Linked DNA regions of Homo sapiens: region 2 is linked to region 1. The links come from fine-mapping of genetic effects on plasma protein levels. A gene starts in region 1. The other region holds a variant in brackets. All regions are shown on one strand. Distances are between the middles of the regions. Region 1 holds the start of VSIG10 (V-set and immunoglobulin domain containing 10). Region 2 overlaps VSIG10 (V-set and immunoglobulin domain containing 10).

The links. PIP is the posterior inclusion probability: the model's chance that the variant is causal. Protein levels are from antibody-based Olink assays in UK Biobank. Linkage for the fine-mapping came from a reference panel and not from the study's own genotypes, which makes the PIPs less certain.
Region 2: its variant is fine-mapped to the plasma level of the VSIG10 protein (UK Biobank, PIP above 0.99). The variant lies in the coding sequence of VSIG10. If it changes the protein, the assay may bind it differently, which can mimic a change of level.

What each region holds. Positions count from the first base shown.
Region 1 is chr12:118,101,003-118,106,371 of GRCh38, forward strand. It overlaps VSIG10 (V-set and immunoglobulin domain containing 10), which reads right to left and starts at 3,009. Exons shown (of 9, transcript NM_019086.6): 1 at 2,591-3,009. The coding sequence starts at 2,669. It overlaps LOC124903029 (a long non-coding RNA gene), which reads right to left and starts at 2,580. Exons shown (of 2, transcript XR_007063478.1): 1 at 1,987-2,580; 2 at 603-1,265. RefSeq lists a silencer at 2,853-3,102 and an enhancer at 4,744-5,369.
Region 2 is chr12:118,068,367-118,073,735 of GRCh38, forward strand. VSIG10 (V-set and immunoglobulin domain containing 10) reads right to left here. Exons shown (of 9, transcript NM_019086.6): 5 at 5,333-5,369; 6 at 2,993-3,103; 7 at 2,686-2,701; 8 at 11-231. The region is part of intron 1 of LOC124903030 (a long non-coding RNA gene); the gene reads left to right. Among named protein-coding and RNA genes, the nearest start is that of WSB2, 9.9 kb to the left of the region's middle. The variant G/A (reference allele first, on the strand shown) is at 3,020.

The DNA.
Region 1 (5,369 bases):
AAAGCCGTGGTGAAACTTTAGTCTTGGAACTTGAGCTAACATTGTTTTCTCCTCCAAGGCATAGAATGACATGATCACAAAAGAAACCATTTGAAGACATTTCACTTCTCCTGGTTTGGCTTACTCCGTTCTTTTTTAAACCACTGTATCTGAAGGTGCCCTTGGAGATCATCTAGTCCAGAGATGTGGCTGCCCTGTGGGCTGGGTTGAAGATGAGATTGAGTCCTGGTTCAGTGGAAAAGAACACAGTCATCGATTTAGTGATGTCTGACATAGACATGGAAGGGGTAGTTCTTGCCTGGCAGTCCTAAACCTCCTCACTTTACTACTGAGAAAATTGAGATTTAGGAAGATTAAGTTATCACTTAAAGTCCCAAGCAAATCACTGGGAGATGTGGGATTGTCACTCAGGTCACGTTACTCTGGTCTCCTGCACCAGACAGGATGCAATGATAAAATATAGTAACAAGTTTAGAAGTCATTCATATGGTGTCCAGAGGGTCCTTCTTGCCCCCCAACCTTAAATGTACAATAGAGAACCGAAGAGGGAGTAATATAAACTCCCTGATGCTGCCCATGTATTATTATTTACAGAGTAGGAGTTATACCCAAACATTTATTTATTTTTTTAAAGCAACTTTTCCCAAGAATAACCTAGGATTTACAATCCGGGGTAGCTAGTGGATGCATATAAGTTGTCTGGCATTGAATGTCAGGAGAAAAATTTTTTTCCCCAAAAACTCCCAACTTAAAAAACAAACACACAACAAAAATACACCAAGCTCAGGAAGCCCCCTGGCATCATACACAAAGGTGAAGCAGGTCTGGGCATCAAAATAGCTGGGCAAAGGCCCAACACGGTGGCTCACACCCATAATCCCAACACTTTGGGAGGCCGAGACAGGAGGATCGCTTGGGTCCAGGAGTTTAAGACCAGCCTGGGCTCAAGCGATTGTAGAGACCGTCTCTACAAAAAAATTTTAGAAATTAGCTAGGCGTGGTGGTGCACGCCTGTAGTCCCAGCTACTTGTAGGCTGAGGTGGGAGGATCAGTGCAGTGATTGCACCACTGCACTCCAGCCTGGGCAACAGAGCGAGAGCCTGGCTCGAAAAAAATAGCTGGCCATAGCAGTGGAGATAGGTTCCCCATGGGGCGGGTGGCAGTCAGCCTGAAAGCCAGGTCATTCCAGCAGGATGACTTCATCCCAGGGTTCTTCTCACTTCCCAGGTTCCTGGTGTTCATCGTGCAGGAAACACTGCAAACAGCTGGGGAGATGGGAATACTTGACAACCACCTTTCACGTCCAGAGATGACCAACTAGGAACTGTCCTCCCCCATCACCCACACCCCAGCACAGTGATTACTCAGCCAAATGCCTGCAGGGCCAGCAGGTAACACCCATGACTGAAGGTGGCGGGGCAAATATTACAACAGGGAGAGGTGGAACAAATTTGGGCTCATATGCCCTAGATAAGAGGATGACCACTGCCCAATTCCAACTGGGAAAGCAGGCCCCGTGTTGCCAGACCTTCAGATTTTTCCAGATAAACTGGAAATCTAGAGATGTTATTGTTTTTAAATGGTTGGTTAAAAAAAAAAAAGCAAAATAAAATTGTATGAGCCTAATAATTAGGAACTCTTGGCACTTGCTGCTAAGAAGCTCCAGCATACTTTACAACCCATCTCCAGAAACGTGCAAGAGGAGACCCGTTGGGTGGAGCAGACCCGGGAACACAAAAAGTAGCGCTCTGCCTGCATCCTGGCAAACTTCACCACCTCCTGGCTCCATCTCCTCTCCCTGCACCCCAGCCTCCTCCCAGCTTGTCACACTCCCAGCACACAGTAGGCATGCACAGTAGGCATGCTGGTGAATTAAATTCAAATATATATAAATAGTTCAATCTTTTTACATTCTACATATTTTTGTAAGCACCCCTCCAATTCTTTTTTCGTAGCAAAGCAGACCATAGATGAAGCATTTCAGACCTTTTGTCAATCATGTCAAGTGTGAGGGGAAGTCTTTTGTAAGTCAGCCAAGTATTTCAAAATAAAAAGCTTTTCCAAAAGTAAAGGCGGAAGACCCCGCTTTGAAGGCGCTGGTCGGCACAGGAAGACTTGCAAAGGTGTGTAGGGAAGTCCACCGGTTACAGGTGTAAGGCGAGTTCAACCTTGGGCAGAGGGAGGAGAAAAATAAAGTGGGAGTCTCGAGTTTGAGCACCAGCGTATCAGTTACTACTAAAACCAGAACGCGAATTTACATCCGACGCTTAAAAAAAAAAATCACTTTCCCGGCACACGTGCCTCTTTACTTTGCCCCCGCACGTCGGCTCGGCTCGGCTCCTCTGCAGCCTCACCGGCTGCCCACCCCAGGAGGCTGGGGGTATCTCGCCCCGCACCGGGCGCCCGGGAAAACTCCTTCCTGCAAAGACGGCCGAGCTGCGAGCAGGAAACCAAGACCCTCCTGGGGCAGCTTCTAGGCTGGGGCCACCACGGATCCGGGCGGAGTCGGAGGGAATTGGGTCTCTCGCTGTCCCCTCCCCACCGCTGACTGGGAAAACTCAACTTTTCCCTCCAGATCGCGGCCCCTTACCTACGGCGACCCAGCCGGCCAGGAGCGCCCCGAGGCAGACGAGGACGCGGGGCTCGGGCGCACTGCCGCCTGCGGCCATCTCGCCCCAGATCCCGGCTCAGGAAACGCAGGCTCGGGCTGGGCTGGACGTGTGTGCCCCAGGGCCCCGGGGCCCGGGGTACCGAGGGCTCCTCCCAGGTCCTCGGAACGGCAGAGTGGCCCCACTTCCTCGGCCCCCAGGAAGGATGCTTGGCTGAGCCGAGTGTCCAGGGCCGGCAGCGGAGCTCGGCTGCAGGCTCGGGTCCCCGCTCCCGAGCGCCCTGGCCGGGGAGGGAGGGCGCACCCCGCCCCCTGCGCCCGCCAGCCTACTCCTGCCGGCGGAAAACAACAGGAGCGGGATCCCTCCCGCCTCCCAGCCAGGCGGGAGCCCAACTTCCTCTACCTTGGCCCGGGAGGAGGGCTTTCTGCCGAGGGCGCGCCGAGCCGGGTCCCGCCGGGCCAGGGGCGGGGCGCGGAGGCTGGGCCCTCCCCAGTCCACTCCGCCCGGGACAGCAGTACCGAGTCGCGGGGACAGCGGGCGGGACGGAGCCCTGCAGCTGCCGCAGGACGCAACCCCCGCCGCTGCCCCGGGCTGCAGAACCCGGAGGAAGCGGTTGCCAAGCTGCAGAACGCAGGACCCCCCTGGCAGTCCCCGCTGAGCGTCTCGAGGGATTCCGGTCTGTGTCCCTGGGCGCAGGGCGGGCGCCAAGGCCGCCATCGCTTCCTTTCCTTACCCTCTGCAAAAGGGAGCCAGAGAAAGATGATCCCCTGACTTTCAGCCAAAGCAGCCACGAGACTCCGGTTCTCCAGTGAACTGGCTGGGACCACACAGTGACAGCGAGAGCCAAGGAGTCCCCAGGACGTGTTTCTCAAGAGTTTTGTTTTTGCTTTTCCCCTTTTAGTTCTCCCACCCCTTACCCAGTCAGATTCCCAGGCTAAGCTCCTCTCTTCCCTGCCATGCCCTCATCCCATTCTGTCCTGGGGAAAATGCGGCTTTGATATCCTCAGGAAGAGCCATCCATAAAACAGCCCTAGGAGAAACTTCCTGTTTCAAATAATAATAATATGGCAGGGCGTGGTGGCTCACACCTGTAATCCCAGCACTTTGGGAGGCCGAGGTGGGCGGATCACAAGGTCAGGAGTTCGAGACCAGCCTGACCAACATGGTGAAACCCTGTCTCTACTAAAAATACAACAATTAGCCGGGCATGATGGCGGGCGCCTGTAATCCCAGCTACTGGGTAGGCTGAGGCAGGAGAATCGCTTGAACCCAGCAGGCGGAGGTTGCAGTGAGCCGATATCACGCCATTGCACTCCAGCCTGGGCGACTGAGCGAGACTCCATCTCAAAATAAATATTAACGTTAAAAAAAAATCATTAGTTCTGTTGTTCAACGGTCCCCTTATTGAAATGCTTCTTCCATGAGGAAATCCTCTTGAAACCACTTTAAAAAAAAAATGTTTCTCCTGGTGAACTGAGCAATGAAGCTGAACAGTTCTGCCTTTTTTACTTTTCTGTTTTTTATTTTTTTGAGACAGGGTGTCACTCCAGTTGCCCAGGCTAGAGTGCAGTAGCACAATCATACCTCGCTGCAGCCTCAAACTACCAGGCTCAAGTGATCCTCCCACCTCAGCCTCCCGAGTAGCTGGGACTACAGGTGTGCAGCACCACGCCCAGCTAATTTTTGTAATTTTAGTAAAGACAGCGTTTCTCCATGTTACCCAGGCTGGTCTCGAACTCCTGACCTCAAGTGATCCACCCGCCTTGGCCTGCCAAAGTGTTGGGATTACAGGTGCGAGCCACCGCGCTCAGCCCTTTTTTATTCTTTGCTCAAATATTTTTAAATAACTGTTCATCAGCCGGGCACGTTGGCTCATGCCTGTAATCCCAGCACTTTGGGAGGCCGAGGCAGGTGGATCACCTGAGGTAAGGAGTTCGAGAGTAGCCTGGCCAACATGGTGAAACTTCGTCTCTACTAAAAATACAAAAATTAGCCCGGTGTGGTGGCAGGCGCCTGTAATCCCAGCTACTTGGGAGGCTGAGGCAGGAGAATCGCTTGAACCCAGGAGGTGGAGGTTGCAGTGAGCCGAGATCGCGCCATTGCACTCCAGCCTGGGGAGAAGAGCGAGACTTCGTCTCAAAAAAAATAAATAAATAAAAAATAAAATAAAATAACTGTTCATCAGATTCTTGACAGGAATTTTGTTTGTTTGTTTTTTGAGACGGAGTCTCGCTCTGTCGCTGCAAGCTCCGCCTCCCAGGCTCATGCCATTCTCCTGCCTCAGCCTCCCAAGTAGCTGGGACTACAGGCTCCTGCCACCACGCCCGGATAATTTTTGTATTTTTAGTGGAGACGGGGTTTCACCGTGTTAGTGTGGGGAAAAGCAAGAGAGATCAGATTGTTACTGTGTCTGTGTAGAAAGAAGTAGACATGGGAGACTCCATTTTGTTATGTACTAAGAAAAATTCTTCTGCCTTGAGATTCTGTGACCTTACCCCCAACCCCGTGCTCTCTGAAACATGTGCTGTGTCAAACTCAGGGTTAAATGGATTAAGGGCGGTGCAAGATGTGCTTTGTTAAACAGATGCTTGAAGGCAGCATGCTCCTTAAGAGTCATCACCACTCCCTAATCTCAAGTACCCAGGGACACAAACACTGCGGAAGGCCGCAGGGACCTCTGCCTAGGAAAGCCAGGTATTGTCCAAGGTTTCTCCCCATGTGATAGTCTGAAATATGGCCTTGTGGGAAGGGAAAGACCTG
Region 2 (5,369 bases), 33 kb before region 1:
AAGAGCTTACCTTGAAGATCCTGGAATCCATTTCCCATCTGTTCTATGTTCCCATTCACCAAGGCGGTCACTCTGTGAATGTGGTCCTGCTTAGGTATTTCTTTTGGCAACTCCTCTCTCTCACGTGCTCCCTCCTGTTCCCCTACTGCAGCATCTTCCTCCTCCTCCTCCTCCTCCTCCTCTTCCTCTTCTGAATCCACCAAAACCATGACATCATCCATGTTTTGTCCCCTAATTTCCAAAGGGGAAAAATAATCAAGAAGATTTCTTATTTTTCCCAACTTCAGCCCTCACTGAATAGGAAACACTAGATTCTTTGCAACCCCATTAGTAATATGGAAAATTACAGCTTGGTGAAGTAATGAGGTGATGGTGTGGTAACCGCAGAGATGCTGCCACAAATTGCTTCAGATGATGGTATCTCATGCTGGTTTATTACTCCCCTGCTCCTTGGGCAGGTGACCATATTGTCCCAGGCATCTACCATTTCATGTCCCCTTACAGCAGGTAGACAAATGTTTTTCCTTTTCTGAAATGCCCTCATTCTGCTCTACTTACCAAAATCTCTCCCCTTCCTCATTTTGGAAGACCCAGGTAAAGTCCTCTCCCTCCTGCTAAAGACCTAAATTAATGACTGCATTTAGAGTCCATGCTATAGTTTATTTATCACCAGCTCACTAGCTTGCCTACCCAGCCAGACTTTGCATTTCAGACTATACATTTCTTTTTTTTTTCTTTTTCGGGATAGAGTCTTGCGCTGTTGCCCAGGCTAGAGTGCAGTGGCGCAATCTTGGCTCACTGCAACCTCCACCTCCTGGGTGCAAGCAATTCTCCTGCCTCAGCCACCCAAGTAGCTGGGACTACAGGCATGCGCCACCACATCTGGCTAATTTTTGTATTTTTAGTAGAGACATGGTTTCAACATGTTGGCCAGGCTGGTCTCGAATGCCTGGCCTCAAGTGATCCAACCACCTTGGCCTCCCAGAGTGCTGAGATTATAGGCATGAGCCACTGTTGTGCCCGGCCTGGACTGTGCATTTCTTCTTCTTCTTCTTCTTCTTTTTTTTTTTTTTTTTGAGACAGAGTTTCATTCTTGTTGCCCAGGCTGGAGTGCAATGGCACAATCATGGCTCACCGCAACCTCTGCCTCCCAGGTTCAAGCAATTCTCCTGCTTCAACCTCCCAAGCAGCTGGGATTACAGGCATGCGCCACTACATGCGGCTAATTTTTTGTATTTTTAGTAGAGATGGGGTTTCTGCATGTTGGTCAGGCTGGTCTCGAACTCCCGACCTCAGGTGATCCACCCGCCTCGGCCTCCCAAAGTGCTGGGATTACAGGCGTGAGCCACTGCACCCGGCCTGGACTATGCATTTCTTAAGGAAGAAGAATGAACGCCACAGGTCAGTCACCTGCCCGAGGAGCTGTGTTACATTGTCATTTAATCTTCACAAACCCCCTGGTGAAACAAATCAGGAGACTAAGGCTCAGAAAGGGTCAGGGATTTTCTATGGGTACAGGGCTTGGGAATGGCACAGCTGTCATTTGAACCCAGGTCCAATGGTCTCAGTGCCTTTTCCTACTACACCACACTGATGCCTCCAGTGAGAAATAAGCCCAGGGAATGACAGACTTACTAAGAATGGCCCTCCAATACAGGGCAGTAAAGGTAATGTTTTGCTACGAAAGATGGTCCCAGGTCAATAATATCCTGTCATTTTGAAGAGGTAAAGAACTGTTTTTCCATAGGATCATAGAGAAGAGTACTCTGCTCCCACCCAGAATCTCCTTAGGAAATGAAATACACAAGTTCCGTTTGGTTCCTTCGCCCCTACTGGGGTTTCCTTTTGGGAGGGGGTTCTGGGCATGCTCATAGTAGTCTTCCAAAACACTGTAAAACTGGCTGGGTGCAGTGGCTCGTGCCTGTAATCCCGGCACTTTGGGAGGCCGAGGCGGGCAGACCACTTGAGGCCAGGAGTTTGAGACTAGCCTGGGCAACATGGTGAAACCCTGTCTCTACTAAAAATACAAAAATTAGCCAGGCTTGATGGTGCGCACCTGTAATCCCAACTACTCGGAAGGCTGAGGCAGGAGAATGGCCTCAACCTGGGAGGTAGGGATTGCAGTGAGCTGAGACTGCACCACTGCACTCCAGCCTGAGCAAGAGAGAGAGATTCTGTCTCAAAAAAAAAAAAAAAAAGAAAAAAGAAAAAGAAAAAAAAACTTAAGACTATGACTGATTCTTTCTTTTAGCTCTTTTTAGAAAATTAAATAAAACAAATGCATGAATGACTGGCTCAAAATGTACACATTGTCTTTCTGTCTCAATGACAGACCTGCAATGTGTCCAGCCCTGAGGTTTGGCGCTGTAAAAGAACACAGACTTTGGAATTGATTAGACCTGGACCTGAAGGAAGGCACTGCTGCTTTCTTCTGGAATGAGCTTGCAGAAATTACTTCACTGAGCCTCCATCCCCTTATCTGGAAAATGGAGATGTCACCACCACCCTGAGGAGATGATGAAAGGGTTTATAAGAATACCTGATGAAATCCCTAGGCCAGTGTCTAGCACATCGTAGGTCCTCAATGGTAGTTGCTATTATTGTTCTTGTGAAAGGAAGGGAACAAAACAGAAGTGAAGACAGATGCGGGAATGGGTGTTTGGTTTGATTCTAGGGAACACTCACCTGGAAGTGTTTCCTACTGAAGAGAGAAAGGAAAAACCATTAATATCCAGTAACATCCACTTCAACCTGACAGGTTCTTAATCAGGCAAACATTTACTAGAGGAACAAATAAGAAAACTGACTCAATATGACAGGTGATAGGGTGTCCCGGGATGGTACTTAGGTGACTTATTACTGTGTATCTTGACCCAGCAAAGAAGCCCAGAGAACAGAACTTCAGGTGGGAGCAAGGCAGGGGCCATCCTTCCCCATCCCGCACCTTTTCAAAAGTCTGGAAGAGAAGCTAAAGGACCCAGGGAGTCCTTACCTTTCCAGCAGAACACAGGGCTATAAT[G/A]CAACAGAAGCCCTGAGATAATGGCCAGTCCCAGCAGAAGGAGGCTCACAATGGTTCCCACAATCCCCCCGATATTTAAAGGTTCTGTAAAGACAAATCACACCATTGATTCTTCCATCAGATATGTGTGCAATTAGAACAACACCTCCCTTTCTCTGCGTGGATCCAGTTCTTGTCTTGATTCCTGACCTTGGGTAAGGCTTATGACCTGTCTGTAATGCCAGATAAATATTTTATCACCCAACCTCAGAGAGTTTGTGGGGATCAGATGGAGCAGGGAATGTGAACAAACAATGGAAAGTTAAAATCTCTCTGTCTACCAAACACTGAGACTATTTCTAAGGCCATGGTAAGTAAGAGTGTTGAGAGTTATCAATGCCATGATAAACAGAGTGATCAACGGAACAGAACAGAGAGTCCAGGAACGGGTCCACACGTAAGTATAATTGATATATGACAGGGTCTTGAGCAAAGGAAGCACTATTTAAGAATTGGTACTAGAGCCCGGGCGCAGTGGCGCATGCCTGTAATCCCAGCACTTTGGGAGGCTGAGGAGGGCGGATCACCTGAAGTCGGGAGATCGAGACCAGCCTGACCAACATGTTAAAACCCCGTCTCTACTAAAAATACAAAATTAGCCAGGTGTGGTGGTGCATGTCTGTAATCCCAGCTACTTGGGAGGCTGAGGCAGGAGAATCACTTGAACCCGGGAGGCGGGGGTTGCGGTGAGCCAAGATCGCGCCATTGCACTCCAGCCTGGGCAACAAGAGCGAAATTCCATCTCAAAGAAAGAAAGAGGGCCGGGCGCGGTGGCTCACGCCTGTAATCCCAGCACTTTGGGAGGCCGAGGCAGGCGGATCACGAGGTCAGGAGGTCGAGACCATCCTGGCTAACACAGTGAAACCCCATCTCTACTAAAAATACAAAAAATTAGCCGGGCACAGCGGCGGGCGCCTGCAGTCCCAGCTACTTGGGAGGCTGAGGCAGGAGAATGGCATGAACCCAGGAGGTGGAGCTTGCAGTGAGCCGAGATCGCACCACTGCACTCCAGCCTGGGTGACAGAGCAAGACTCCGTCTCAAAAAAAAAAAAGAAAGAAAGAGGAGGGGAGGGGAGGGAAAGAAAAGAAGGAAGGTAGGAAAGGGAAAAGGGAGAAGAGAAAGGAAAAGGGAGAAGGGAAGGGAAGAAAGAGGCCAGGTGTGGTGGCTCATGCTTGCAATCTCAACACTTTGGGAGGCTGAGATGGGAGGCTCACTTCAGGCCAGGAGTTCAAGACCAACCTGGTCAACACAGTGCGACCTCATCTGTATAAAAAATAAAATAAAAAGAAATAAGTAGAGACATATATAGTAAAACTTAAAATTCAGGACCATGGTTACCTTTCGAGAGAGGCCCAAGATGAGACTAGGCCTACAGGGAGGGTTCCCAGGTAAAATTCAGTATGCCCAGTGAAATTTGGATTTCAGATAAACAATGAATAGTTTTTTTAGTGTAAGTATGTCTCATGAAATATTTGGGACACACTTATACTTAAAAGTATTTATTTTTCTAAACTCAAATTTAAGCAGGCATCCTGTTTTTAAAGTTCTATTGCTATTTTCTTCTTTTTGAAGTGGATTCTCGCTCTGTCACCCAAGCTGAAGTGCAGTGGTGTGATCTCGGCTCACTGCAACCTTCGCCTCCCAGATTCAAGCAATTCTGCCTCAGACTTCCGAGTAGCTGGGATTACAGGCACCTGCCACCATGCTCAGCTAATGGTCTCGAACTCCCAACCTCAGGTGATCTGCCCATCTCAGCCTCCCAAGTAATTTTGTATTTTTAGTAAAGACGAGGTTTCACCATACTAGCCAGGCTGGTCTCAAACTCCTGGCCTCAAGTGATCCACCCGCCTCGGCCTCCCAAAGTGCTGGGATTACAGGCGTGAGCCACTGTGCCCAGCCCTATCGTTGTTTCCAAATCTGGCCCTGAGACATACAAGTAACCTAATGCATGTTGGTACTATTCTGTATCCTCAGTGGGATGATAGTTTCTTAGGTGTTCATTTTGCTGTTATGCTTTACAACTGACATACACTAGATATCTATTCGTTGGTGTGTATAGATATTATGTAATTTTTGCTACCTATGGAAATATTAGTGAGTTTAGGGTTGGATAATTTCTTCCAGCCACCTTGTCAAGTCATAAGCAAGCAGATATGCCTTCTCCCAGTTGGCAGTGACCCATGTGTAGGGAGGCACCAGGCTGTCCTCATGCTGATGCTGGGTGCTCTGAAGCTCTGAACCCTCCCTCCTTCAGGCCCAGTTCCACCACTCACCTTTCACACTCAGCCAGATTTCCATCTCCCTCACCCC